4 separate regions of the Homo sapiens genome follow, and all the other regions are reported to be linked to region 1. Evidence: microRNA targets listed by miRTarBase, many of them from high-throughput screens and not tested one by one. Region 1 holds a microRNA gene; each other region holds the end of a gene's coding sequence.

Evidence for each region. Region 1 holds the annotated microRNA hsa-miR-103a-3p (AGCAGCAUUGUACAGGGCUAUGA, at 2,282-2,304, opposite strand). A microRNA usually pairs through its seed, bases 2 to 8, with sites in the 3' UTR of a target mRNA and lowers its output. Matches are read on the target gene's strand: a 7mer-m8 pairs with bases 2 to 8, a 7mer-A1 pairs with bases 2 to 7 and ends in A, and an 8mer does both.
Region 2: miRTarBase lists KCNG3 as a target of hsa-miR-103a-3p. Seed matches in the 3' UTR shown: 7mer-m8 at 756-762.
Region 3: miRTarBase lists CITED2 as a target of hsa-miR-103a-3p. The part of its 3' UTR that is shown has no 7-base or 8-base seed match.
Region 4: miRTarBase lists NACC2 as a target of hsa-miR-103a-3p. Seed matches in the 3' UTR shown: 7mer-A1 at 4,650-4,656 and 7mer-A1 at 2,539-2,545.

Annotation. Positions count from the first base shown.
Region 1 is chr5:168,558,623-168,565,745 of GRCh38, forward strand. It overlaps MIR103A1 (microRNA 103a-1), which reads right to left and starts at 2,351; the gene lies at 2,274-2,351. PANK3 (pantothenate kinase 3) reads right to left here. Exons shown (of 7, transcript NM_024594.4): 4 at 5,267-5,443; 5 at 2,771-2,894; 6 at 410-535. MIR103B1 (microRNA 103b-1) reads left to right here and starts at 2,282; the gene lies at 2,282-2,343.
Region 2 is chr2:42,437,521-42,444,643 of GRCh38, reverse strand. It overlaps KCNG3 (potassium voltage-gated channel modifier subfamily G member 3), which reads left to right. Exons shown (of 2, transcript NM_133329.6): 2 at 65-2,627. The coding sequence ends at 710. It overlaps LOC124900542 (small nucleolar RNA SNORD75), which reads right to left and starts at 4,267; the gene lies at 4,208-4,267.
Region 3 is chr6:139,367,254-139,374,376 of GRCh38, forward strand. It overlaps CITED2 (Cbp/p300 interacting transactivator with Glu/Asp rich carboxy-terminal domain 2), which reads right to left. Exons shown (of 2, transcript NM_006079.5): 2 at 4,554-6,699. The coding sequence starts at 6,691. The coding sequence ends at 5,879. Among named protein-coding and RNA genes, the nearest start is that of CITED2, 3.8 kb to the right of the region's middle. RefSeq lists enhancers at 1,566-2,384, 6,494-6,553, 7,064-7,123 and silencers at 6,104-6,203, 6,774-6,923.
Region 4 is chr9:136,005,082-136,012,204 of GRCh38, forward strand. NACC2 (NACC family member 2) reads right to left here. Exons shown (of 6, transcript NM_144653.5): 6 at 1,456-6,943. The coding sequence ends at 6,435. Among named protein-coding and RNA genes, the nearest start is that of UBAC1, 47 kb to the left of the region's middle.

The DNA of each region.
Region 1 (7,123 bases):
TAAATGAATACAAAAAAATCTGGGGGTGCCTAACAGGTTATTGTAATTCTCTTCCCCACAACTGAAACTGAAGCGAAGGAACCAATATTCTACTACTTAAGGCTGGGCATGGTGGCTCACACCTATAAAGGATTGCTTGAGGCCAGGAGTTCCAGACTAGCCTGGGCAACAAAGAGTGATCCTGTCTCCACAAAAAATATTAATAAAAATAAATTTTCTGGGCACAGTGGTGCATACCTGTGGTCCCAGCTACTTGGGAGGCTGAGGTGGGAGGATTGATGAGCCCAGGAGGAAGAGGCTGCAGTAAGCCATCATTGTGCCACTAAACTCAAGCCTGAGTGACAGAGCAAGACCCTGTCTCTTAAAAAACATGCTATTAAAATTCACAAAAAACATTTTCCTACCATACCTCATGTTCTAGAAACAATGCTTTTAGTTGACCTTTTGACCAGTAATCCAGTGCATATGCCAAAAGTTTCATTGAGAGGGTATTGACACGTAAAAAGTTTCCAACAAAGACAACTCTGTTTATTTTCTAAAAGAAAAGAACAAAGAAAAAACTTGTAAAAATAATAGATTTTACAATATAAAAGGTTTCTAAATATTTATTTAAAATTTATTTTAAAATGCAAAAAAACACAACTACGCTTTATTAGTATAACACCTACTACATTCCTGGCATATAGCTGTATAATCCTGAATATTTAAAAATTAGTTCTGCACACATCATCCAAAATCCACAAAATGTGTAACACCAAGAGAGAACCCTAAATTATGGACTTTGGGTGATGATGATGTGTGCACAGGGTTATGGACTGTAACACATGATCACTCTACTATGGGATGCTGAGGATGGAAGTGGGCTGTGTGTGTATGGAAGGTGGTATATGGGAACTCACTGAGCTTTCCACTTAATTTTACGTGAACCTGAAACTGATCTAAAAAATAAAGTCTACTTTTAAAAAAAGGTTCCAGAAAGACTCTAGCAGATGATTTCAGGTGAGATTTGTTTTTGAAAATGGCCAATAAATAGCCCCCTTACAAAGTCATTTGGAGACACATTACTGATGTGATTAAAAAAAAAAATCAAAACATGGTAAGTACTATAAAATGCATTTAGTTGATAAGTAGCAAACTTGGCCCACACATTGCAATGCATGTTGAACAATGACATGCAACTGTGGATTCTACAGAATTGGAGAGTAATACTGACTGGGGTACTGGCATGTGCATTCCCCTAGGATTCTAGCATTCTTTCTCCGTCCCCTGCCTGATTCATCAAATCATTCTCTCTCTGCAAAGATTCCACACTAATTTGGTTTCTTAGATTATCTCTATGATTAGGAAATCTTACAAAGGGGAACTGGTGTTTGAATCACCAGAAAACTTATTTCGACTCTCACACTATACTGACTTTTGAGTAGAAATCTTTGTACATAAGTTGGGATACTGTAAACCATGGCCTAAATTATTGTTAACTCAATTGGTCAGTGGAAATTTAGACATAAAGGGCTAAGAATAAAGGTCTCAAATTGTTGTCAGCTCCCAACATGGTCTACTAGTAACTCCATCAACCAACTAACACTTAAGTTTCTAAGTTATTAAAAAACTGATGAGACCAAGTTCTGGATTTAAATACAGAATAATTCAGAGGATTTGCATATTTGTTCTCTCTGCTGGAAGCTTTCTCCCCAAAATGTCTACATGCACAGTTTCCCCCTCACCTCCTTCAAACCTCTGCCTAAGAATCACATTTTCAATAAAGCTTTCCTTTAACCACTCAATTACTTAGCAATTTGTCCTCTACCACTCTCTGCCCTATTCCCAATCCTCTTTATCCTGTTTGATGGTCTCTTTTTAAAAAAATAGCACTTATCACCTAATACACACTACACAATTTACTTAATATGTCACTAGAATGAATGCAAGCTCCACAAAGCCAGATCTTTGTTTTCTTCATTAATATGTTCCAAATACCCAGAACGATGTCTGGCATCTGGTAATCAGTAAATATTTACTCAATGAATAAATGAATGAATGAACAAATGAAGGGTTCCTTCGAAAAGCGTACTTCCCAATCCATTTAAAGTATTTGATATTTATAAAAATTAAACGGGCAAATATATCTATTATTATATAAGGAAGCTAGAATTAAATATATATATTCTCTTCCAAACAAAGAATCCCAACTATATGGTCAATCTAACAGTATATCCTTTTCACACTTTTCTTGTAACAATAAACACCACTCAAATATCATGAAGAACAGGTCTCAATGCCTTCATAGCCCTGTACAATGCTGCTTGATCCATATGCAACAAGGCAGCACTGTAAAGAAGCCGAGGGCAGTAAGAAAACTTCCAAGAATTTCACTAATCAAATGCAACATTAAGCACTGGTGGTATAGTGGTGAGCATAGCTGCCTTCCAAATGCAAAATTAAGACTAAAAAAAATGCTTTCACAAAGTATCTCAAAATGTCTTATGCTTAGAACTTTCTTTTACATCCTCAAGGGATTTAGGTTGTGTTTTTCTGAAAAAAAATTCTGAATAAATTTCTCCTATTTCAATTTGAATTATCTGCTACTTTCTTTAAAAGTAATATAGCAACTGGATACGTAACATATATACCTAATGAGTCTTGGCATTTAATGGGTTACATCTCAATCCCAGAGGCCTCCTTAGGGAAAGTGAAGAAGCCCTGCTAGGTGTATATAGGACTCCAATTCACATTTTTGATAATTCAAGTTTTGTGTTTTTTGTTTTTTTACCTCATTAACAGCACACATTCGTGCCACAGAACCAATGTTATTGGTGATAGTAACTAAAGTAGCTCTTGCCAGATCTTCTTTACTAACAGATTCTCGCTTCTCCTTATAAATCATATTCCCAAAACTGCAGAAAAATGAAAAATAAAGTCAAATCTGCTGATAAAAAGCAACATTTTACGTATTAACAGATATATCTACAACCTGGATATTTTTATAAAATTAGGACCAAAAAGTAGAAACACATAGGGATAAGATCAAAACAAACTAACAAAAAAAATCTATGCAAGAGTAAAGTAATACCTTTCAAAGAATTAAGGTTAAAATGACATCTCAAAAAAAGCATAGTTAGTTATTATAAGAAAGCAAAGATTACCAAAATATCTTCACTTAAACCTGATTCAAAACAAATTAGCCAAAATTACAAAATGTTTCCAAAAGTATCTCAGCTTTAACTTCAAATTCTTTTTCATTCAGTCACAAGAAACATTTATGACATACCAAGCTTTGTGCTGGAGACAGATAGTCCCTCAAACAGTGAATTAGTCTAGTGCAGCACTGTCCAATAGAAATAAAATACGAGTAATATATAATTTCATATATGTTCTATTAGCCACATTAAAAAGGTAAAAATAAACAAGTGAAATTAATTTTAATTGTACATTTCATTTAAGCCAATATATCCAAATATCATCAATTCAACATGTGGCACTCATAAGCCAAGTGCCTTACGTGGCTAGAGGCTACTGTAATGGACAATGCAGGCCTACATACAAAAGACAGCAAGAGAAGCGCTAACAGTAACAGGGAAAAAATCCAAACAAAGGCTAACCCCAAACAAAGGCTAACCTTGGAAATACAAACAAAAAAATATCTTTTATTACAGTGGTAAGAGAAAAAAGTTAAGAAGGTATGAGGCAGGGCTTTCAGAGCAAAAGGACCAGAAAAAGCCAGAAAAAATGAGAAGAAAAATCTTAGGCAGAGGCAACTAAAGGTTAAAGGCACACAGAAATGAGAAATGAAAACATCTATGAAATCACAAGATGTTTGGTCGGAGTGAAGCGTCTATGCAAGGGAGAGGCAGGAGATATTACTGAAGAGTGAGACAAAGTCCACTATCAAAGGGCACTGGATTCCCTGACAAAGAACTTGGGGTGCACAAGCAACAATGGTTAGGAAGCATAATGGGAGACAAGACTGATAAACAACAGAACAGTAAATTTAAAATATTTAGGAATCAATTTAAAAAGCCATGTATGGACATATTTGGAGAGGCCTTTTTAAATGTGTGAAAGGCACAAAAGTAGCCTTAAACAAACAGACAAGCTAAGTTCTTCAACAGCAAGACTTACTATAAAGATATCATTTGTCCCTAAGTTAATATGTAAACTTACTGAGATTCCAAAAACATTTTTGTAATAGAGAAAATGTTTGCCAAGTTCATACAGAAAATCAAGCAAAGGAGTGAAACTAGCCCTTCTAGAGATTAAAACATACTTTTTATGCCTCTATAAAGCTGAAAGTATAATGCTGGTACATCAACAGAATGAAAAGCCAGCATATGTAAAAAAGCCATCTCAAATCAGTGAAATAAAGATGGATTATTAGACATTAGGGCCTTCTGGAAAAAAAAACAAAAAACCTGAAAAATGAAAGCATGATCTGTAACTCACAAAATACCCTAAGATAAACTATAAGTAAATCAAAGATTTAAGTATAAAAATACCACCATTAACATATCAGAAGAAAATAAGGGTTTATTCCTTTATATATTTGGAATGTAGAAGACTTACTTACTATGAATCAATATCCAGAAGCCATAAAAGAAAAGACTGATAAATTCAACTGTATAACAATCCAACAGAAAAGTAGAACATGAACAATAACTCACAGAAAATAAAATATGCAAGGCTCTTAACCCCAGTGTTGGTAGGAGAAATGTAAATTAAAATTACATTAAGATACCACTTCTCCATCTGATTAGCAAAAATGCAAAAGTTAGCACTCTACTGGTGAAACAGGCACTTTCATTTACCGCTGGTGAGAGTGAAAAACAGTACCGCTCTTTTGCATAATTAACAATATCTCAAAAATGCATTTGCAATCCAACTTTTGGGAATTTATCCTACACCTGTATAAAATAAGGTCAACAACATGTAAAGATTTCTATATGGATACTTTAGAGTATATATAGTATGCCATATAATGGTAGATTACCTTTTGTATATGGGGAGAAAAGTAAAAATATGTATTTGTATTTGCATAAACACTGGAAAGACACTCAAAAATTAAAAAAAAAAAAGTTTCTTACAAGGTGCACTCAGGGTAAACTTCTTAATGTATACTTAATTTTTAAATGACATCAATGTTCAAAACTTGGAACCTAAACTGGATAAGAGAAAGCACCCTTACAACTTTCTGTTACATTGCTTTCCAAAAACATAAGCAACTTGAATTACTTAACTTCTGTAACTTAAATAACACAAATGTTAAACTTACCTAGATGCTACAGCCCAACCTGGCAAACCAAATCTTTCATAATCTCCTCCATAAATATCACGGACCAGCTTGTCAGCTTGTGTGCTATCACCTTTGGATGCCATTTCAAGAGCCTCTTCAAAACTTTCACAGCCAGTCAATAAACTGCATAAACCCAGAAAGGTACCCCCTCCAAGGCTAAAGAAAATAAAGAAACTTGCTAAGTTGCATTTATACATTATATTCTTTCTCTAAAGTAAAAGGGTGGATCATTCATGTATTCAATGAACACACAGAAAAAAAACCTATGACTAATGCTGAGTGCTGAAATAACATAACGAAGGCAACAAAAATTGTTTAGTAAAACCAAACTTGTTAGATCAAAGAATAAACCAAAGAAAAAAATCACTTGGTGGAAACATGAGGAAAGGAAAGACCTATTAAATCTCTCCCAAAGTCTTCACCTAATACCTTACACTCTGTAGTTACCAAAGATAAATTGTTGTGTGTGCATTAAAAAGGAATAAATGTTAAAAATCAGTACCATATTAATTACAAAGAGAAAATCTGTAATTTTTCTTTTGAGACAAGGTCTCACTCTGTCCCTCAGGCTGGAGTGCAGTGACCATGATCATAGCCTAATGTATCCTTGAACTCCTGGGCTCAAGCAATCTTCCTGTTCCAGCCTCCGCAGCAGCTAGACTACAATGCACACTACCACACTGGACTAATATATATGTATATATTTTTGTAGAGATGGGGGTCTCACTATGTTTCCCAGGCTGGTCTTAACTCCTGGTCTCAAGCAATCCTCCACTTTGGCCTCCCAAAGTGTTAGAATTACAGGCATGAACTACCATGCCCATCTTTGTAATTTTAAATCGTTTCCAAGAAATGATTTTGGGAAAGGCTTCTTTACTTGGCCTGACATGGATGAAATCAATTCAATATGATACACTAATATTTCACATGACCTACACATAAATACAATGAGTAAATTTATGTCCAGCTGGCCAACATGTCAATTACAGAAATTTATTTGCTTCTATTATTCTTCTGGATATGCTCACAGAATGAAATCATATCTAATTCCTAAACTGTAAACCTTTGCTCCCTAGTCTCATCTAAATTTCTAGCAAGTTCTACCCCTGAATCACTGTTGGATTTAGTTAACAGACTGAACTTCTTTTAGAGTTAACCGAAGAAGGCAATAGCAGTGTACAATTCTTTGGCATAGAGAATTACAACAGAGGTGAACTTTTAACCACCATAAAAATAAAGTACTAATTAAGTATAATTTAAACAGAATTACTACTTTAAAATTAAAATGAGTTTTTTTCACAAATTAATCTAAAGTATTTGAAAATCTTTCTTCCTTAAACTGGAATCTTCACCTCTCTGTAAAAGTTGATAAAATACATAAAAGAATCATGAGTTTTATATCTTATTTCTCATTCGTATTTCAGGTATTACAGAAAAGTATGTGGGCTATTTGGGAACATTAATGTTATCACAAAAAGAAATCACATTAATTCATCCTATAAGAATAAATTACAATGTTCCCCAGTACTGCAGTTTAAGGGTTTACATATATTAATATCCATTAAAAAGTCAAAAAATAGGTAAAGAAGAAAAATGCTTTGGAAAAAAGAACAAAATATAAACATAATAAAGTTTAAAATCAATAGAACACTGTTGCTTCCAAGTAAATGCTCCAGTTAAATTCTAGAAAAAACGTTACCAGACTCATTCTAGATAAAAATTCACTTTACCATTATGGAAATTTTGATCCCAACTGATGCTGACTAATAAACATTTAATAATTTCAGTTTGAGTCTTGACATACACATCTTATAAAAATACATTATCTGTTGGCTG
Region 2 (7,123 bases), not on the chromosome of region 1:
AATCTAAGAGCTATTAAAATGCTTAAAAATAAAATGATCAATTCTTCTTTTGTTCTCTTGACAGGATAATTGAAGCTATCTGCATAGGTTGGTTCACTGCCGAGTGCATCGTGAGGTTCATTGTCTCCAAAAACAAGTGTGAGTTTGTCAAGAGACCCCTGAACATCATTGATTTACTGGCAATCACGCCGTATTACATCTCTGTGTTGATGACAGTGTTTACAGGCGAGAACTCTCAACTCCAGAGGGCTGGAGTCACCTTGAGGGTACTTAGAATGATGAGGATTTTTTGGGTGATTAAGCTTGCCCGTCACTTCATTGGTCTTCAGACACTCGGTTTGACTCTCAAACGTTGCTACCGAGAGATGGTTATGTTACTTGTCTTCATTTGTGTTGCCATGGCAATCTTTAGTGCACTTTCTCAGCTTCTTGAACATGGGCTGGACCTGGAAACATCCAACAAGGACTTTACCAGCATTCCTGCTGCCTGCTGGTGGGTGATTATCTCTATGACTACAGTTGGCTATGGAGATATGTATCCTATCACAGTGCCTGGAAGAATTCTTGGAGGAGTTTGTGTTGTCAGTGGAATTGTTCTATTGGCATTACCTATCACTTTTATCTACCATAGCTTTGTGCAGTGTTATCATGAGCTCAAGTTTAGATCTGCTAGGTATAGTAGGAGCCTCTCCACTGAATTCCTGAATTAATGCATTGCAAATCAATTCTTGCATACACTTCATAGAAAGACTTTGATGCTGCTTCATATTTATGTGTTTCTTGCTGGGTGAGCACTGCAGTGGCATTGTCATCATCTTGGTAGGGTAAAAATTATCCTTCCCAGCCGAAGGGATAAAACAGTTTACTTGTTATGGAGTAAATAGAATTGAGACTGCAAAGGAAGAATAATGACTCCTAGAGTAAACTTTAGGACCCGGTTTTATTTAGACTTGTTTTCCCGTTTCCTTGAATGATTACACATTTTTAAAAAATACATTATTTGAACATTTTAAAACAGAAAGGTACTATTTTCCAAATGTTTTTCCATCTTATGAATTCAGAAGAAGCTTGGAACTTATAGTGTTTTTTGTTTGAGAGTAACATTTTCATTTCTAAATGTTTTATAATTTCTCATATCAATGTCAGAAGTATCCTGGAAACATATGTCACATGCGGGAACTGTTTAACAAATACTTTAAAAATTTGGCCAAAATTTAAACTGTATAATGGAGCTAGATACAAGCAAGAATAGTATTTGAAAGACTTTTCCAGCATACTTCTCAATTCTTTGCTTTATTTTTGTGCCAATTATTCACCTTATCGTGCCGCTTCATGGAAGCTTGAGTATGTTCTCCCTTTTCCATTTTGGATTTATCTCTTTACTGTAATGACTCAAAAGGTATTTAAGAATTGACGAGAGCTTGTGTTGTTTAGCATCTTACTGGATAATATTTGAATTCATTGCTGTTCCTAGGTGATAACTGTCCTAATATTTAGATGTCCAAACAAGAATACTTCCAACATAAAAATTATAATAGGAATAATTTGAGATGACTCAATATTACAACCTCTTCTTCTCTTAACCTCCTCCCCCAAACACTAGAGGTTTAATAAGACTTATCAGATGAAAGGATATTTATATAGCCTTTTAGTAGCAAAGTCATACTTACGTGTTGTCACTGGATTATCATAAAAGGGAGAAATTAAATATTACTGTACTCTTAGTTGCTGTGTAGCTAAGTCAATTTTAAGCCAGTAAAAGCGATGGATACATAATGATTTGATCTGATCTTTAACTATTGTGAATCACAGCTACACCAAAACTCTTCTTGTAAGAATACTGACTAATATGCCATGTTAATCTGGCTAGATTATTAGGACTAGATAATGTAAAAGTGATGATTGTTTAGTAACTAAATTTTAGCAACAGAAATTAGAATTTTGCTTTTTCAACCAGTTACCATAAAGAAGTTAGTGTATATATAAACACAAATAATTAGTGACAGATTCATAAAAAATTGAATGTTGTACACAGTAATTTTGTCAGAGGTAGAGAAGACAGGGATTGGGAAGTGGTGGGTGATGGAGGACCTGGATATATTTATCAAATAAAGGGTTACCAGAAGTGTTCATTAAAGGAATTTTAGCCATCATCTAGTTCAAACCTCAACTATTACAGGTAGAAAATCAGGGCAGGAGAGAATATAATTGTGAAGGAGTCAGGGCTAACACCTGGATCTCCAGAAACCTAGCCCAGCAGGTTAATCTTCACACATCTCTGGGTTCTGAGAAAAGCCTGGAAAAATCACACTTCTTTGTCATTGTCATGCTGAGGTAATAATAGCAAAACTGTTTTCTTTCCCTTAATTTCCTTTCCTAAGCTTATGTAATAGTTTGGCCATTAAATATCTTGCCCTATTTTCCCTATTACTGCTAGTATGCTACTTCTTACATACCCAAAAGAAATTCAGTTATTTATTGTATATTTATTGTATTCTAATATAATTGAAATAAATGGCATGGATTTATTTTTTCTTAACTATTTGGATTAAAGCTTTGTGGTTCATGCAAACAATGTGCAGATGATAGCACCTCCATATTACTAATAAAAATATGATAACCATCAATTTTACTGGTACTGGGACCGCTTTATGTGAATATGTCCTATCTTCCCAAGTAAATTATAACTGTCTTGAGAGCTGGGATCCTCTCTCATGCATACACCTTTGTATCCCCGACAGTGTCTGTTACAGACTTGGGCACAAACAGTTGACTGATTTGAGGGGAGAAACTTCTGTGTGAAGAGACGAGGAGAAGCATATACCTATAGGTATATATATACACACACACCTATATATATATATTTTATACATACATATAGGTATATATATGTGTATATATTTTATATATAGGGATATGTGTGTGTGTATATATATATATAATGTACATGTGCAAATATACACACAGACTTCATGCTACCCTTAGGTAACAAGTGTGAAATCTCTTGTTGGTGATTCCAGACTTTCCATAGGACCGATTTTCATAAAGAAGCATGTTGGGTAAATACTAGTGGCAGTTAAGCTACCCATTTATAAGGAGACGATGAGACGTGATAGAGTAGTTCATTCATAAATGAAAAAATATGTATTAGGGTTTTGTCTTCATGGATGTTGTGTTTTTTTAGGAACAGCATTTTATTGTAACGTTCCCTGAGCGTTGCTACTTTTATCATTATTTATCTATTTATTTTTTTCTAGAGATAGAGTTTTGCTTGGTTGCCTAGGCTGGAGTGCAGTGGTGTGATCATAGCTCACTGCAGTTTTGAACTCCTGGGCTCAAGCAGTCCTCCCACCCCAGCCTCCCAAGTTGCTAGGACTATAGGTGTGCATCACCATGCTGGTTAATTTTTTAATTTTTATTTTTTTGTAGAGATAGGGGTCTCACTGTGTTGCCCAGGCTTGCCTCAAACTCCTGGCCTCAAGCAGTCCTCCCACCTCAGCCTCTCAAAGCTCTGGGATTATGGGCATGAGACACTGTGCCTGGCCTGTTGCTGCTTTTTTAAAAAACCATTAAGTATCACTTCTTTCTTAGCTATACTTACAGACATCTCTTATAACTCAGTCTTTTCATGGCAGAAATGTTTTCATTAATATCTGTATTGGTACCAGTAAGTCAGACATTATCCTAAATTAAAATACCCAAAGAGGAAAAAAGCCCTAATCTCCTAATCTTTAATCTGATTTTACCACACCTGAATTTACATGACTTGATCTAATATGTAACTTGTTTTGTATTCTCTAAAATGGGAGTTTTAGGATTACAAACACAAAATTAGGGAATATATTTGAAAGTGAACAAACTAACAATTCAAGGCTTTCATTACTGTATTGTCCTTGTTGCTAATTGAAACAGTTGCATTTGTTCTTGGGTTTGGTCATTACCTATAAGTACCCATTTGTAAGTTCATACTTTCTGAAAAGTTATTTCCACAATGGCTGTCAATAAGTCAAAATTATTTGTCTTTTTAAACCTTTGTCCAGATGTCCTGTGATCTGGAAGAGGTGGAGATGGGGTTAATTTGGATGTTGGTGTTGGGAGAATTTTCCCTGTTGGCTTGGTATTTGCTAATAGCAGTTTATTTTCCTTTTTTTTTTTTTTTTTTAAAGAAAACAGACAAAAAGATGCAAAACAATATTTGAAATATTAAAGCCTCAGGATAGAATTTCAGACATCCCTTCTGTCCACTTCACCTCTTTTCCATAGAAATGAAAAATAAAACATTGAAAGCTCCTAGCTCTGTATTACTATTCAGCTGTGTAACTCCAAACTTAATGCATAGTGTCATAGAATATTTCGAGTCCTCTGACCCTTCATAAATGTGCATTCCCTTATGGTGTGTAATATACAATTCAATCAGACATAGTCTAATCATTTTATAGGGTCATAGGAAGTTGGAACTAGGGGTTGTGGAAACCTTCTGGTCTATTTTGGCCCAATTGTATGCCTTTTGTCCGATCCAAATATTAGCAACCAGGGAACTCTGCTCCCAGTGGGTTGTAATTTAGCCATGGTCACTCTAGTGTCAGGTTAGGTCCCAGAAGCTTGATTTCCAGACTTTTGGCTTAGTACTCTGGATATACTTCCTTTAAGAATCTTGTAACTTCGGAAGCCATGAAGGATTTCTTTTAAAAATATTTTCTTGGCCAGGCATGGTGACTCACGCCTGTAATCCGAGCACTTTGGGAGGCCGAGGCGGGTGGATCACCTGAAATCAGGAGTTCGAGACCAGCCTGGCCAACATGGTGAAAACCCATCTCTACTGAAAATATAAAAACTAGCTGGGCATCGTGGTGCCTGTAATCCCAGCTACTTGGGAGGCTGAGGCAGGAGAATCACTTGAACCAGGGAGGCAGAGGTTGCAGTGAGCCGAGATCGCGCCTTTGCACTCCACCCTGGGTGACAAAAGTGAAACTCCGTCTCAAAAAAAAAAATTTTTTTTTATTTAGGGCTTTGGTGTTCCCCGTATTTTTCCTTTTTCTTTTTCTTTTTTTTTTTTAACGTTTGAATTAAAAAGCAATTATTGCCGGGCATGGTGGCTCACGCCTGTAATCCCAGCACTTTGGGAGGCCAAGGTGGGCAGATCACTTGAGGTCAGGAGTTCGAAACCAGCCTGGCCAACATAGCGAAACCCTGTCTCTACTAAAAATACAAAAAATTAGCCAGGCTTGATGACACGTGAATGTAATCCCAGCTACGCAGAAGGCTGAGGCATGAGAATTACTTAAACCTGGCAGGTGGAGGTTCCAGTGAGCTGAGATCGTGCCACTGTACTCTAGCATGGGTGACAGAGGGAAACTCTCTCTCTCTCAAAAAAATCATATATATATATATACAATAATATATAATTGACAGTTTATTTTTATAATAAAAATAATATTGCTTTTAGAAGCCTTAGATGTCAAGAAGGAGGGCTTGAGACAAATGCATAAGTAACTCAGATTTTCTCTAGAATTTTAAAAATTACTGTACAGTTGTGCACTCATCCACATGTATCCAAATAAGTACAGGTATTTGATAGTTGTCACTGCATTATTCAGGACATTCTCAGAACCAGGCTGAGAAATGTCAAGTAACATGGGTTGAAGCTTTGATGGAATGTTCTGGAAAGTTCCATTTTGGTCAGGAAAGGTTGCATCCATTTACTTCTGTGTCTGTTCAGTGTTCTTTCCTATGGTGTTTCACTTCCTGATTTTCCAGAGCCCATCTGCACTCAGAAACCTGGGCATATCAGTTCTGCTTCTGAAAGTAGACTAATGATTTACTGCCTCATTTGCAGTGAAGCCTTCCATAGATTTGTGAAATGTCATCCAGAAGCATGATTATATTGTCCCATTCTGTGGTTAACTTATGCCCAAACTTTCAGATTTTTCTAGATCTTCCAAATATTTTCAGTAAGTACTGGAGCTTTTGACTGTTAGCATAAGCTCAATTGTCAGTTTACTACTATTTGCTTAGAAAATTGAACTTGATAATCTGCATTTATGCTGTAATTTAAACAAATACATTTTAAGTAGCTTTGGTGGGAATTCTTTGGTTTATCGTTTAAAATATCAACAAGACTATACCAAATATAACATTTAGTACATGAAAGTGAAGGGAGAATATTATTTGGCTTTCACCTACCAGGAGTAAGTGATTCTATGTTATTTATATCTGAAGGAGTGCTTTGATGTACTTATTTATGCAGCATTATATTAAAACTAAAACTAAAATTTCCCGTAATTTTATATTAGATAGGATCACTATTTCTGTTATTTGGAAATAATTCTATAGTTCTGCCCATGACAGAGTGGAGGCAGTTTGTAGTGTGTATTGGTTTGTTTTTGTTTTGTAGTAGAGACAGGGTCTCCCTATGTTACACAGGCTGGTCTCAAACTCCTGGGCTCAAGCAGTGACATCTGCTGTAGTAATATACGATGATTTGTTCAACTTAGGTATTATTTTTCAACTGCATATTACAACCTCGATCTTATAACTCTGATGGAATTCCATGCTTTCTTTCTCTACAATATAGAGGGCAAGATAATTTTACTTTCTTAGTAGAGAGTAATATTTATAGTTACAAATTCTGAGCTGTGATAAAAATGGAACGTTTATTATGTGATTGTAGTGACAGAAAATTTTTTTTTTTTTTTTTTTTTTTTGGAGACAGAGTTTCACTCTTGTTGCCCAGGCTGGAGTGCAATGGCACAATCTCAGCTCACTACAATCTCCACCTCCTGGGTTCAAGCAATTCTCCGGCCTCAGCCTCCCAAGTATCTGGGATTACAGGCGCCCACCAACATGCCCTGCTAATTTCTGTATTTTTAGTAGAGATGGGGTTTTGCCATGTTGGCCGGGCTGGTCTCGATCTCCTGACTTTATGTGGTCTGCCCACCTCAGCCTCCCAAAGTGCTGGGATTACAGGAGTGAGTCAACACACCCAGCCCACATATTTATTTTTTAAAACCATACCTATGTCAGTGCTGTTTGGCAAAATAAAAAAAAATTAAACCATATCCACGCTTTTATACTATACACTCTGAAGTAAAATGCAAATCATAAAATCTGTGTAAGGCTTAAC
Region 3 (7,123 bases), not on the chromosome of region 1:
ACAGTCAGTTCAATCATTTTTCACCTACTGGCCTCATCGTCCTTATGTTTGCTAAACACATAGGGTGAAGAGAGATGTATGAAACTGGTCATCATCTTGCTTATCCTCCTTTCAAGAGTTATCCAAAATACATGCAACGGGGCCATATTTACAAGGTGATCTAAGAATGTGTATGCACAATTGAAGTATACTATATGTGCTTTAAGGAGATAGCAACTGTCATGAAGCAAAAAACCCAACGGAACCCAAACCAAACCCCAAACCCAGTGGGTTACGAGAATAAACCACCACCACTAACAACAATAAAATTCTGTGGCCTAGTGACTAAGGAAATCACAAGGCCAAATGTTATACCAATCCATAGGAAAACCCAAAGAGAAAAGACCTCAATAGCCTCCAATCCCATTTCCTTCACTGTAGCATGTGTTCATAAAAACAGTACTGACAATCTGGAGTTGGCTGACTTTTCCTGATTTTGTGCTAGTTTGACTTGCACTCAAGCCTTAATTTTGCTCCCCACTCAGCTTTCAGGAATGGACAGGCAGAATTCTTTGGGCACTATTAACTTTTCAAAAGCCACTCGCCTATTTGCATATCTCCTGCAATGCGCACCACGCTAACCTTGCCTTGCTACAGGCTCCTCAGGAGACAGATTCCCCTGTCGGCTTTGTTCAGCAACCCAAAATGTAATCAAGTAACCACTCTACTGTAGAGGGAAGAAAGGGAGGGATTTCAGGGCTGAGCACAATGGTGATACCATGGGAAAATTCCAAGAATTCCGTGAACCACAGTCCTCACCCCTGGTTGTGCCCCTGCCTCACTAATCTTTCAGATTAGTTCAGCCTAATGAAAACTAATAACATATAAAGCAAGTAATAATATTCACCGTCCATCTTTCTTTCATGTGCTTTTTGCTCACTCTGCAAGTCCTGATTTAGCCAAGCTGAATTCTCAAAAAGCACCACTAACTGCCTCCTGGGGCTGCTTCATTTAGTGCTCCTCTAGGGGAAGGAAGTAACTGATAAGAATCCAGCCGCTAAAAAGTCATTATTTGTTCATAGACAGTATGGAAGAGGTCGGTCTGATAGTTTCTCTTTCCCAAGGATCATGGATTCAGTTCCTCAACACAACAGACTCTTACTTATCATAGCTTTTCTTTCATTGTGTATAAATATCAAAATATGATAGAAATTCACGCCAGCCGCTCTTAGAATATTTTCTCACTCTTTAGCATTACTGCATTACTTATGAGTTTAATTTCTTCCTGGGAAGGGAAGAAGTTCTTTATTTCAGATGTTTTAATATTTTTTTAAAATATAGGTAGGTCTCACTACAAGGCAAACTAAAATTATCAGCAGTATGTTATTTGATGGAAAATATTCTTATATTTCCTTTTCCAGTTTAAATTAAAAGTATGGCTACCAGGAAAAAAAAAGAATCATTTTTCTCCTTGCTGCATAAAAATAGGTCAAGTAATTTAAGCCAGTCCATTGCAATTAAAATTCTGACATTGCCATTGTTCCTTCTATTCTAGGGGGAGAAGACAAACAGAGCCCATGATAATAGGGGTTCACTGGCTGAGTCATTTGATGTGCTACCTATTGTTCTCTTCTGGAGGCTCAGCCTCAACCTGCCTGGGAGCGCTGATTTTGATGATAGTGGTGCAGTCCCAAAATGATAAATACCATCTCTGAAGCATGCATTTCTGAAGAGGTGTACTGCTGCTTTCATGCTAGCAAAACATTTCCACTGCAGAGGAAAAAATTGCCAATGGCATGGGTCTTAAATTCCTTGAATTCTAAATTTATTTATTTTTTGGAGACAATGTTATCTGCCCAGTTTATTTTAAAGTAAATTTTACTGACTCAATTAGACAGCAACACTCATCCTCATTAAAGATCCTGCAGTCCTTTCACAAGATTAGGGCTGGTGGCTTGGTCACATTCCAATGTGGATAATTGCATTCTGCATTCCTGGATATTTCCCTCCACCTTTCCAACCTCATACCGTCAAATGCATTGTTATTTACCCTTACTGCAAATCAACAGTCCTGTTGTGGAGGCGCTGAGGGTTTGCCATCCCCTCAGTTTGCAGGCTAAAGCATCAGCCCAAACCACTGCTCCTTACACTTTTAAAAGAAAACCCCTTAGGTAATGCATATTTTCAAATATGAGGCAAATCTCAATTATGCACACTTAATCATAGGTTAAGGTTTTTGGTAAGTAAAATATTCTTATTTTATAAAGGATGTTTATTTTGGAATCTTCTTTGATTTAAAAAATGTGTTGCTCGAATATGTGCTGTTTGCTCAAAGAAGAAAACAAAGTCTTCAGAAATGGCAACAAAACAAACAAAAAAGCGAAAAAGCTCTTGAGGAAACAGCTTTTCATTGACCTTCTAAATAAATTCCACAAGGGGGCGAAAACACCTAATGGTCCGGGGCTGCAAAGTTTTTATTGCAAAGCTGGCCACCCATAATAGATTAGTGGATTAATATTTTTCTCTAAAGGATCTGGCCTTTAATGTTGACATCAATTTATAGCCATCCCAGGCGTTTACAGTAGTAAAAGTCATGGAGACCATAAACTTCACAATAGATGTCAGCCTTCTGCTACTAGTGCTCTAGCCCAGCACCCCATAAACAGTGGTGATTAGGTAACTGTTCTTCAAAGACCCATCCATAGCTCTAACGTCTTTATCAGCTCCCGCAAAGATACTGTCACGAGGATTTTATCAGGCACAAGACAGAAGTATACGTTTTTATTAATGTGGACTTATTTTTCTGACATGTAGCTATGAGGTTGCACTGCAGCTTATCATTGATCTCTTCTTGAAAATCAAGCATGGAGTGTCTATTTTTGGGCAAAGCTTAAAGAACAGAAGCTCTCTTGTATCATATTAGAACTTTTTGACAAACAGCCAAGGTACAGAGGTCAAATTTCCCCATATGCTATAAGCAACTTAGTAGGAAGCAAGACCACAAAAGGTTTTGCAAATGTCTGCCAGTAGCCGGGTGATCTAGGTCACTGTACAGGTTTCATTAATCAGGTTGTTGAAACAAGGAGTTATTTTTCTCTGCTTAAGAGACCTGCAGATATCATGTAGAATCTGCTCAATTGTTGATCAAGAAAGAGTTTTTAATGAAACAGAGATCACTCAAGTGAACTGGGGTGCGGGAGCGTTTGTATTTGTACTGAAGACAAATTGTGCTTTTTAGCCCAGCTCCTCTGTTTGAGTCCTCTGTTCTGGTAGGGATGGGCTCAAGATCTAATAATAGTTCCTTGGGCTCTGCATCTCCACATACGTGTTCCGGCGTTTGAGCAGCAGGAGGAATTTAGTGACAGAGCAGGTGTTGTGGCTTATTCCCTGGCAGAATAAATGGTGAAGGGTGGTGGCAAGACAATTCTTTGGCTTCTTTATGCAAAAAAAAAAAAAAAAATGCATTTAATCACTTTCCTTTTTTCCTGGCACTAGTGAAAAAGGATTGGAGTTGCTGTATTAATATGTATGCAAACATATTTTTTCACTTAAGCCTCTGGAAAAAAAAAAGAGAGAGAGAGAAAGAAAAACTTACTGTGAAAATGCTTAGCCAGAAAGATTCATTGCTGATTGCAGATTTAGTATTGACATGTCTTAGCTGAAGAAAACTTCAGCTTTAACTATTAATGTGGAAATCTGGATCAGCTTTTAAAGTAGGGTAAAAAGAGTTTTGGATGATTCAGTATATTTATTTGAACATAATTTTAAAGAAGAAAGTGTCAATTATAGAGGTATATAAAAAACCCAGTGGAGTGTGTGCATTTTAATTTTACATGGCCTACCTTGGAAATAAAATTATAAAATGCAGGTGATCTGAATTATACTTAAAGCAGCCTTTATGCCCAACTTACTCTCTCATAACACTTCTAAATATCCGCTCCTCCTGATTTCTTATAAAATATGGAATTTAAGATGAGAATCGGAGTCTAAATGAAATGTTCTTTTAAAGCATTATTTATAAGATTTTCCTCAACCTACATTTTTTACTTCCCCTAGTAAGTTGCGTACAAAAGTCTGTATTTTTTCTTGAAGGTAGGTGTGTTGCTCTTATAAACATAAGATAAGCCATGAAAACATGAAAAACAAAATTCCTTCTCCTTCCACCTGGGATAATTTGAGATTTTCACAATATTACTTTTTCCTTTGCTTGATTATATAAGGCAAAACTTGATACCCACTTAGTTGTAGCTATGGTCTTCTTGATAAGACATCTATCCAGGTAAAATTAAAGTATAATTTTCAGGTGATTTGCATCCCATGCATGCAACAGGAAAACTCAGAATTCAGGAAAACAGGGCATGCTTAAGAGGGAACATCTTGTAAAGACTGTAATTTGACCTTTGAGTCAACCTGAGTACATTTTAAATATTATAGGACAAAAGCCTCAAAGTGGAATTCTGCCTCATCTTTCTCAGAACTATAAACCAGTCAGACACTGTTTCAGAGATTACGCTAGAAAATATGTACCTATCCTTGGCACTTTTGCTGAGAAATAAAACTCTCATCACTGGAGATAAAGGTAGATTTATATTTAATGCCACCCATCAATCAATCAGTGTATTATTCCAATCTACCTCTATTTAAGTAGTTGAATCAGGTATAAACAGAAACACTTGATTTTTTTTGCCTCCTGCCCATTGAAAAAGATAATGTTGAGTATTGCAAACCTTTCTAACTCTGGAGTACACTTGATATGATGGCAATTAAGAAAAAAAAAAAAGCAGTGACAACTTTGCAGCTTTTGATTAAAGCACACCAAGAGGCATGTTACAATGATAACAATGAAGCATTATGCCAATTATGTTAAATCCTGCTCTCCGCTTAAGCTCATCATGACCTGTTTTAGTGTCCTGTAATTTATCCTTTGGAATGCTTACTCTCATCAATAGTGTTCAACTCAAAGACGGGGGGAAAAAAGCCACCAAAGGGAACAACCACCCCCAAATGACTTCTAGAAAACAAGTTATTTCTTAACTTTTTATTGACATTGGCAAATTAAAATAGAATAAATTAACAAGTATTTTTTCAAAAAAATGTTTTGTACAAAAATACTGTCAAAATTTCCTAAAAAGCTTTCAACACAGTAGTATCTTTTCATGTACTGAATATAACTATTAGCACAGTGTCAAAAATGTTGAAGACAGAAACAAAATAAAAATCTGTGAAATGTTTGCCACTGACGACATTCCACACCCTATTATCATCTGTACATATGGGGGTGGGGGGGGCGGCGGGGGGGACAGCCAACTTGAAAGTGAACAGTATGACTTTCCTGATCCAGAACAGTTTGGCCCACATCTGTTTAATCTTCCAGTTTAGCATATTTTAAAAATTAGTCTGTACTCAAATGCATAGTTAAAAAAATGAAGCGAGATGGCAGTTTGTGCAGTAATATCTGCCCTTCGAAGTTCATGCAACCAACTAATGCAATTTTTCCTTTCACTCGTAAATCTGAATGCAGTTCAGTCATTTGAAACCATCTACAAAATCCACAAGATTAAGCAGTTTGCCAAGATTAATATCTAACAGTTGAGCACTGGAGAAAGTGAGGGAAAGGAGTAAAAACAAACAACGAAAAAGACCAAGTTAGCTAGATATTTCAACTACATAAGGGAGGTGGGTGAATGTCAAGGCTACAAAAACGAAACAAAAACAGGAAAAAAAAGTGGCAGCAATTTTTTTTAAAACCAATTTGTACAAGTTTATAGTTTACTTTGTTTCCAAGTTCTCAAACCTTTCAAGATCTGAAAAGTGAGATACTGTGTCTAAGGGAATGTTTCTTTTAATTCACGCCGAAGAAGTTGGGGGTTTGATTTCTTTCGCCGGGGTTTCGATCGAGTCAACAGCTCACTCTGCTGGGCTGCTGTTTGCACACGAAGTCCGTCATAAAATCAAACTCGTTTTGCCCCAGCCAGAGTTCGGGCAGCTCCTTGATGCGGTCCAAACCCATTTCTATCACCAAGGACATAAGAACTTCCTCGTCGATGAAATCAGTGTCTATGACATTGGGCGGCAGCATTGCAGCGGGGACGTGGGCCACGGAGGCGGGCATGTTGCCGCTGCCGCTGCCGCCGCCGCTGTTGCTGCTGCCCGCGCCGCCGCCCGAGCTGCTGCCAGAGCCGCCGGGGGTGCTGCTGCCGCCCGAGCCGCCGGGGGTGCTGCTGCCGCCGCTGTGCTTGGGGTTGCAATCTCGGAAGTGCTGGTTTGTCCCGTTCATCTGGTGGCCTGCAGCAGGGTGCAAATCCGGCATGTAGTGGTTGTGGGGGTAGGGGTGATGGTTGAAATACTGGTTGTTGAGCTTCTGCAGCTGCATGCTGGCCGGCAGGGAGCCTCCCTGGCTGGCCACCGGGGGACCCATGAACTGGGAGTTGTTAAACCTGGCCGCGGGGGCCAGCGCGCTCGGGGGGTGCCCTCCGTTCACAGTCCCCGGCCCCATCGCATGCCTGATGCCGCTCGTGGCATTCATGTTGCCCGCGCCGTAGTGTATGTGCTCGCCCATTAGGGCGTTGAAGGCGTGCTGGGGCTGCTGCTGCTGGTGGTGATGGGGGCTCGGGAACTGCCCCATGCCCATGCGGTGGGCAGGGTGATGGTGCAGCCCATTGGTGCCGTCGGGGAAGCGCCCGTGGTTCATGGCCATCATATGGTCTGCCATTTCCAGTCCTGGAAGTGAAAAGGGCAGATAATGAGACCCGCGCCACACGTGTCGCCCACCACAGCGCACCCCACTTTTGCTCGCCTCTGCCCCCCAGGATTCCCGGGCGCACGTCGGCTGCGAACCACCACCCCCAAGATCCCACTAACAGCCTGTGCACCCGGGCTAGCCACCACGGAAGAGCTACCACTCATAACACAGCCGGACGCTGCACAAACAGCCCCTTCCCCTGCGATCGGGCGGGGGGACCCGAGCCCACACCCCCTTTGCTCCCCGAAGTGGCCTAATAAAGGAAGTGCCCCGTAGCCCTGCTGCGAACTTCAGGCATTAAATCAGCCCTCCTCATCCTGTTGTTGCACATCCTGTTGTTATTCCCCAGCTTCGCCTCACGCTCTTCCTCCGGGCAAACCCTGCCCTCGGAGGACTGGGCTG
Region 4 (7,123 bases), not on the chromosome of region 1:
TCCTCCTTGGAAAACCAGGGCCGACTTGGTGGAGGACTGGGCTGGGTAGGCCCCCTCCCAGAGTGGCAGGATTCCTGGGCCAAGGTGGGGCATTCTCCACGACCCTCCCTCCCCTAACTGGGCCACCCAGACCTCAGCAGTCCTAGCTGCTGAGGGGGCCTGGGACCCACCTGGGTGCGGCATTTGGGGTCTTGCAGGTGTGCATCCAAGCTGTCTGTCCTCACCAAGCTCCCCACCAGCCAGGCAGGTGCTGGCCCTGAGAGCTGGGGGCTCTGCTCCTTCTCCAGGAAGTTGAGTCGGATACACTTACCCTGGAGGCCTGGGGCTGGGCTTGGTGGTGGGATGGGGACTGGAACACTCCGTGTTCCCTGGCCCCCACTGGGGAACAGACCCCTTGGGCATTCCTGGTGGGGACAGTGTGGTGATGTGGCTCCTGTAGGAGGCAATGGCTCAGGGTGACCTCAAGCGCCATCCCCTTGCCACATGGGCCCTTCCATCCAGGGGGCCCATATGGAAACCACATCCATCCATTTGAGACAATCAGGGGCTGCCCTATGCTGGCTCCAGAGGACCCTCTTCTGGGAACATGGCCATGAAGCCCTGCCCAATAAATCCACCACCTCCCTCCAGTACGGCGGGTGCCATGAACCCTGTGAAAGGGGAAGAGAGGCCAGGGAGGGGTGCCCGTAAGGTGATCAGGGGTGGTCCCCTGGACGAGACCCTCACAGGACCGCAGGAAGTGAGGAGCCTGCCAGGAAGGTATCCAGAGGAAAGTGCTTCCAGACGTAGGAGGCACCCATCAAGGGCCCGGCAGGACAGGTCTGGGGGACACATGATTGCAAAGCACTCAGCCTGTCCTTGTGGATACGCCAGAGGAGCAAAAGGGAATGGGGCTGGCCACGCAGCCTGAACCCCAGGACACCAGCCCCAGAGCTGGAGAGAAGGCCAACCCCGCGGGCCCAGCTCTGCCCACCTGCACTTGTCTCTCTGTTCACCTGGGGGCAGACATGGCCCGGGAGGGGGTGGGGGAGGGGGAGGGAAAGAAGGAGCCACGCACCTTTTGGGTGGCAGGTGAGGCAGATGAAGGGGCTGCCCCACTTCTCAGACAATAAAACCAAGGTCCCGAAAAGGAGACCCCCCGACCCTGGCAGGTTGCCTGCGGGTCCGGACAGGGCCCCCCTCTAGCAGGCACACTAGTACCTGCAGACATCCTACCCACCTGCCCCTTCCCTTGTAAAACACTGGGGAGAGCAAGAGATGGGTCAGGTGACCTTGAACCCCACAGCCAGATCCCTGCCCTGTTGTGTGGACAGCTGGCCTGGGGACGCCGCTAACAGGGACGGGGTCCTGAGGGTGCCCCTGGGGGACCATTGGCCACCCCTGCCTTCAATAGCCCAAGCTTGGCTTCTCTGTGTCTCCCCCAAACCCCACAGGGCCAAGCCAAGTCCAGGAAACTTAGGTTTGAACTGACTTTATTATTTTGTAAATGTGAATTTTACAAAGCGCTTTACAATTAATGATCACATCCTTTTGTTTGTCATGGATTTCCACTGTCTGAAACGGCTCTGAGCACGCTTGAAGCCCTCGGTTTCCCTGTTCGCTTTTGAATGTTTCAGTTTTAGTTATTGATACAATGTCAGCCATGGCTAAAAAGTAACAGTCTTGACTCTACCGAGTAACAGCACAAAAACAGAGTGAGGGCTCAGGAAAACAAAACAAAGGCTTCCTCCTTAAAAAAAAGACAAAAAAAAAAAGCTAAGCATCTGTGGCTGAAATCTAACTCAGTGGTACTGTGAAACCTTCCTTTACAGCACAGGAAAATTTATTTTTTAACAGTCGTGAGTTACAGTACTTTAACCCCTAAACAGACTCTTTAAAACAACCGTCTCCTTTTTAAAAGTCTCTTTTTTCCAAACATTCCATCCGAAGGATGGATGCTCTACTTGCACCCAGTGCCATCCAAATCTTCAAGTCAAAAATATTTATACATTTTATACTTAGTTCTTTTTTTTGTCTGCTAAAAATAGTATTGCAAGTTTTGGCTTCTTTTGACATAAAAATCACAATCGTGTACGATGCTAACAATGGAAGCGACTGATCGGAATACGAGCCGGTCGTCCAGTCTGAATGCTTGCGATTCTGCATGATTTTCCTTTCCTTTTCTTTTTCCAAAGAAACAAAACAAACAAACACGAAAAACCTTTGCCATTTTAGAACCATCTTGTACCAAACCCTAAATGCTCCGGTGGTGACGTGCACGCGCGTGCACACACACAGACACACGCGTGCACACATACACAGACACGCGTGCAGAGACACGCACGTGCACACAGACGCGCGTGCACACATACACACAGACGCGCACACACACGCGCACACAGACGCACACACACAGACGCACACACGCACAGACACACACATGCACAGACGCGCACACACAGACGCACAGACGTGCACACACAGACACGCACACACACACAGACACGCGCACACGCACACTCTCACCCACGGAGCTGGCTGGCTGACATGACAAAAGTATGCAGCAGCAACATTCTGAAACAGTAGTTACAGCTGAGGACAGCTACGAGCTCTGGATTCTGCGCTTAGGACTCGCTGCTGGCAGAGGCAGACAGAGGGTTCTTGGAGTTTTCAGTTGGTTCATGGGCCATAGATCTTTTTCCACTTGCTGCCAAGATGTTTCCATAAAAATTTCCCTTTGAGGGGAGCCCAGGCAGTACACGGCTGGGTGGGGTGGGGGGACTGGGCCAGCGCTTAACAGTTTCAGCTGTCGAATGAGGACAGGTCAGGGTCAGGCACTAGAGCCCCCTCAGAGGGGGACCAGCCCTCCCTCCCTACCTTCCGCCTTCCTCCTGGCTCTAAACACAAATGCCAAAGAATGACTCTTCCTGGAGGAGAAAGGAGGCCAGGCAGCCGGCTCCTATGTTCTAGGAGCCCCGACCCGCAGTCACCAACGCCGGCACCCCCAGGCGGGTCCTGCTGACCTCTTGCCCACAGCTTTGTCCACATTCAGGGGCAAAGTACAACAACCAAATCCAATGCAAAGTTAAGTGACGACAGAGAACTCGGGTGGACAGACACAATGCGGAAAACAAGACAGAATTCAAGTACCGAGGCACCCAGCCAGGCGCGGCCCGCCGGGCTCACAGTATCTGTCACACCTCCGGTCCCTCCTGGACCTCTCCATGCAACCCAGCTGCCTCCTGGGCCCATCCCCTTGGGGAAGAGGAAGGCAGGGCAGGAGAGGCGGCTAGATCCCAGGCCCACCACCTGCCAGGCGGCAGCTCCAACACGGTCCAGTCCCTTCTGTCCTCCTCAAAAGGTGTGGAGATAACGTAGCTCTGTAATAGATTCTATATAGGATATGCGTATTGCTAATAGTCAGGCTTAGGGATAAAGGTGCAGACATCTCATAAATACTGAGTGGCTCGTCTCTCTCTACAGGGTCTGGATGAGTCAGGGTCACACTCACAGGACAGGACAACCCCGGATTCTAGAATTAGTCATCTTGTAAACAAAGGAGGGAAGGGTCCGGCTTTCTTAATTGGTTTCCTTGGGAAAAATGATCAAAGGATGCTAAGGCACTCTGGAAGGCCCCTCTGAGCCCGGGCCGCCGCCCCCGCCCCACGGTACATTCAGGACGTGGAGGGAGCACACAGCAGGTCCGCTCAGCAGCCACGCACGTCCACAGACACTCCCGACTCACGCCCACCGTGGGACACATTAGTGCAAAATGCTCGGCCTGGCCCGCCCGGGGCGCAGGGAGAGCTCAGAACCCATTCACATTAAATTATTATTATTTAAGTTTTATCTATAGCTCTTGCCTTCCTTACCCAGAACAAAACAGACGGCGATTACAAACGAGTGAGGAAGGGGCACGGGACATTGTGCGGGCCTGAACAGCAGTCAGGCGTCCTCTGTGCAGCCACCACCTCCGGCAGCAGCCAGCGGCTCCCTCCCTGTCCTGGCCAAGGGTGGGGGGGCACCCACTTTGGAGTGGAGGGCAGAGAGAGCCCTTCTGTCAGCAGCCAGGCCCCCAGGGATGGTCAAATTAAAGTGCAAATTTGGGTGTGGGGCAGATGAAGGAAACTCCAGAGGGAACTCAAGTGCAGCTCAACCTCACCTACCTGCCCCTGCTCCACCCCGCGGCTTCCTCCCATCTCCGAGGAAGGCTTGGTCCAGGTTCCCAGCGGGCCCCATGGGGGCTCCAACCCCACCTGTGCCCAAGACAGGGGAGGAAGAGGCAGAGAAAGGCTCCCTCTAGGCTGGGTGGTTCTTAGTTCAGCAGAAGGTCTGGATGCCTCTGCACCACTGAGCCACCTGCAGCCCTAGGAATGCAGGTCTTGGTCCCCCTGGACGTGGGCCCTGAGGAATGGGTGGAGGGGCCGAGGTTAGCGTCCACAGTGCCTGCCCATGGTCCCCCACCTCCTTCTGGAAAGCAACGTATTTTTCTGGAGGGCAGGCATGTGCTGGGCCTGGCTGGAGGCAGCCCAGGAGGCTGAGTGCTGTCTGTAGAGGCGGCCCCACGGGAGGTCTCCTAGGGCCTCGCCACAGGGGTGGGCTTCGGGGCAGAAAGGAGCCGCCCAGTGGGAATGCGTCTAACCCACACCCTGTAGGTCCCCAGGCCAGGGTGCAGCACATGGTCCTCCCCTAGCGGAGGCGGCCTCCGCTTGATGGGTTGTGGAGGTTGGGGGAGTGGGGTGCGCTGGTCGGCCACCGCTCACTGGCCTGTGTGCACACCGGAGGGGGTGCTGATGGGCGCAGGGCTGCACTTGTTTTGCAAGTGAAGATGGGGAAGCCGAGTTCTGGAGGGACAGAGGTGAGCAACAGACATTTCAAGTCTTGGGATGGGGGGTTCTTCTGGCCACACCTGGGAAGGAGGGCTGCCCCTGGACAAGGACACAGGCCTCCAAAACAAAAGGGAGGGACACCTGGGTAGGTGGCCACACCAGCACTTCACACAGGACTTCACACAGTCTGTGAGCCCTACCACTTAAAAAACAGTAATTAAATTTCAAAGGAAGCACTCCAGCCTCAAACCAAACAGCCCCATCTTCCATGGGCCCTTCCTCCACTGTCCCTGGCCCCCCAACATGATCCCTAACCCTCTGTCCCCTACCAGTGCCCATACCTCCAACTGCCCCAGCCCAGGCCTGTCCCGGTCATCCCCTGCCTGCAGCCTCAGGCACCCTCCATCCATGCACACCCCTCAAGGCAGACGGGGAGCCCAGCACCGGGAGGACCGACTCTCGCCCTGGCCCAGCCCTGGCCGCTGCCTCCTGCCCGAGCGGAGTCCCCCGCTCCCCAGGTCCGGCCCTGAGCTCAGCTTCACACGTACTAGTCGCCCACCCGGGACCCCCTTTTTCCCCCAGTGGGAGACGAGTGGTCCCTGGCCCTGGGCGGGGGAGCAGGGGGACGCACCCTAACGGCCACAGATGACCCACCCCAAGCCATGGTGGGCTGGGGACAGGGACACCCATCCCACCCAAAGTTTTTGTTCTATTGAGTCTGAAAGTTTCCAAACCATATATGAAATAGATCTAAATTACAACAAAACCTAAAAAAAACAAGACAAGCATAATCCCAAAGTGGCTGAGGCGGCAGAGGGCAGCGTGTGCTACATCAGCTGTGCACGTCCCACAGTGGGCCCGGGCGGGACAGTGGGAGGCCAGGCGGGGTCAGCGGTGCCCTGGGGGTCAGGGGACCGAGGGGCTGCAGAGCCGAGACGGATCGGGCAGAACAAGGACAGGGTGTGGGGGCAGAGTAAAGTACCCTTTTCTCCACCCCGAGGGGTGGGCCACAGCCATCACTGCCCCCTCACCACACCCCTGCACACACACGCACACACACACACTCGTGCACACACCCCACACAGGTGGAAGGCCCGGTGGGCCTGGCCCCGAGTCTCCGAAAGAAGGAAAAACGAGGAGTTAGGCCCTGGAGCCTGAGCCCTGCCCCGTCGCCCCAGAGAGGTTCCATGGGGAAGGAAGGAAGGGTCAGTGACGCACAGCCCAGCCCCCTCGCCACAGACCACCGCCGGCCCCTGCTTCGTCTTCCGGGCAGGAGGAGCAGGAAGGGCAGGGAGGAAGGGGCAGGGCTGGGCACCAGGGGCCTGGCGGCCTCCCACCCTCCCCAAGAAGGGGGAGGGAAGCTACACTTGGAGGCTGACCTTGTGAATATCAAAAGGGAGCCCTGGGAACTTCCTCGCAGGAGGCTGCCAGTGGCCTAATTGTTTACAGTATAATGAATGCATTTGTTTCCTTCATCAATTTTAAATACAAGCAGAATAAAAATCACATTTTTCTCAGGCAACAGTAGCAGTTCAGTAGGTAAGTGGCTTGATCACATTTGTTTGTATTAGTAACGCATGCAAGCAGCTCTAGTACTCGGTCCCTCGCGCAGCCACCCAGCTCCGCTTACAAGGTCCCTGCATAGGTGCCCTCCGGCCTCCGGGCCGCGGCCGCCGGCGTCTGGGGCCTGCTGGGGCCGCCCCCGCCCTGCTCAAAGGGCTGTGGGGGGCTCTGGCCATCGGCGGGCAGCGGCTCGGGGGCGGCCACCTCCTGGATGACCGAGCCAGCCCCGTCCACCTCCTCGCCGGCGTCGAAGGCGGGGTTGGCGGCGGCACTCAGGTCAACATTCACGGCGTCAGTTCTCAGAGCCACGATGGTGGCGGCGTCGCCCCGCCGCTCGGCGTAGATGCGTTGCTCGAACACCTGTGCCGCGGCAGGCGGGAACTCGGGGTCGAGGGGCACGCTGGCGGCGGCGGAGCCCATGACCGTGCGGTACATCTCCACGCCCTCCGGCAGCATGGACTTGATCTTGGGCAGCCAGCGCTTGCGAACGCGGCGGGCGTTGGTGCACATGTCCGCGGCGATCACGTTCATCTCGCTCTCCTTGAAGCTGGGGGCGAAGTTCTGACAGTACACTGTGAGGACGGGGCGGCGTGAGCTCAGCCACCTGCCTGCCGGGAGGCCCGCCCCTCCCCAAGGCCACAGAACCATGATGCCCTGGATGAGCCTCCCCGGCCGCTCCTGGGGCCCATGTGACCACCTGGGGCTCTCCTGGCCTCAGCCAGAAGACCAGAGGTCACGTTTCTCACTGCTCG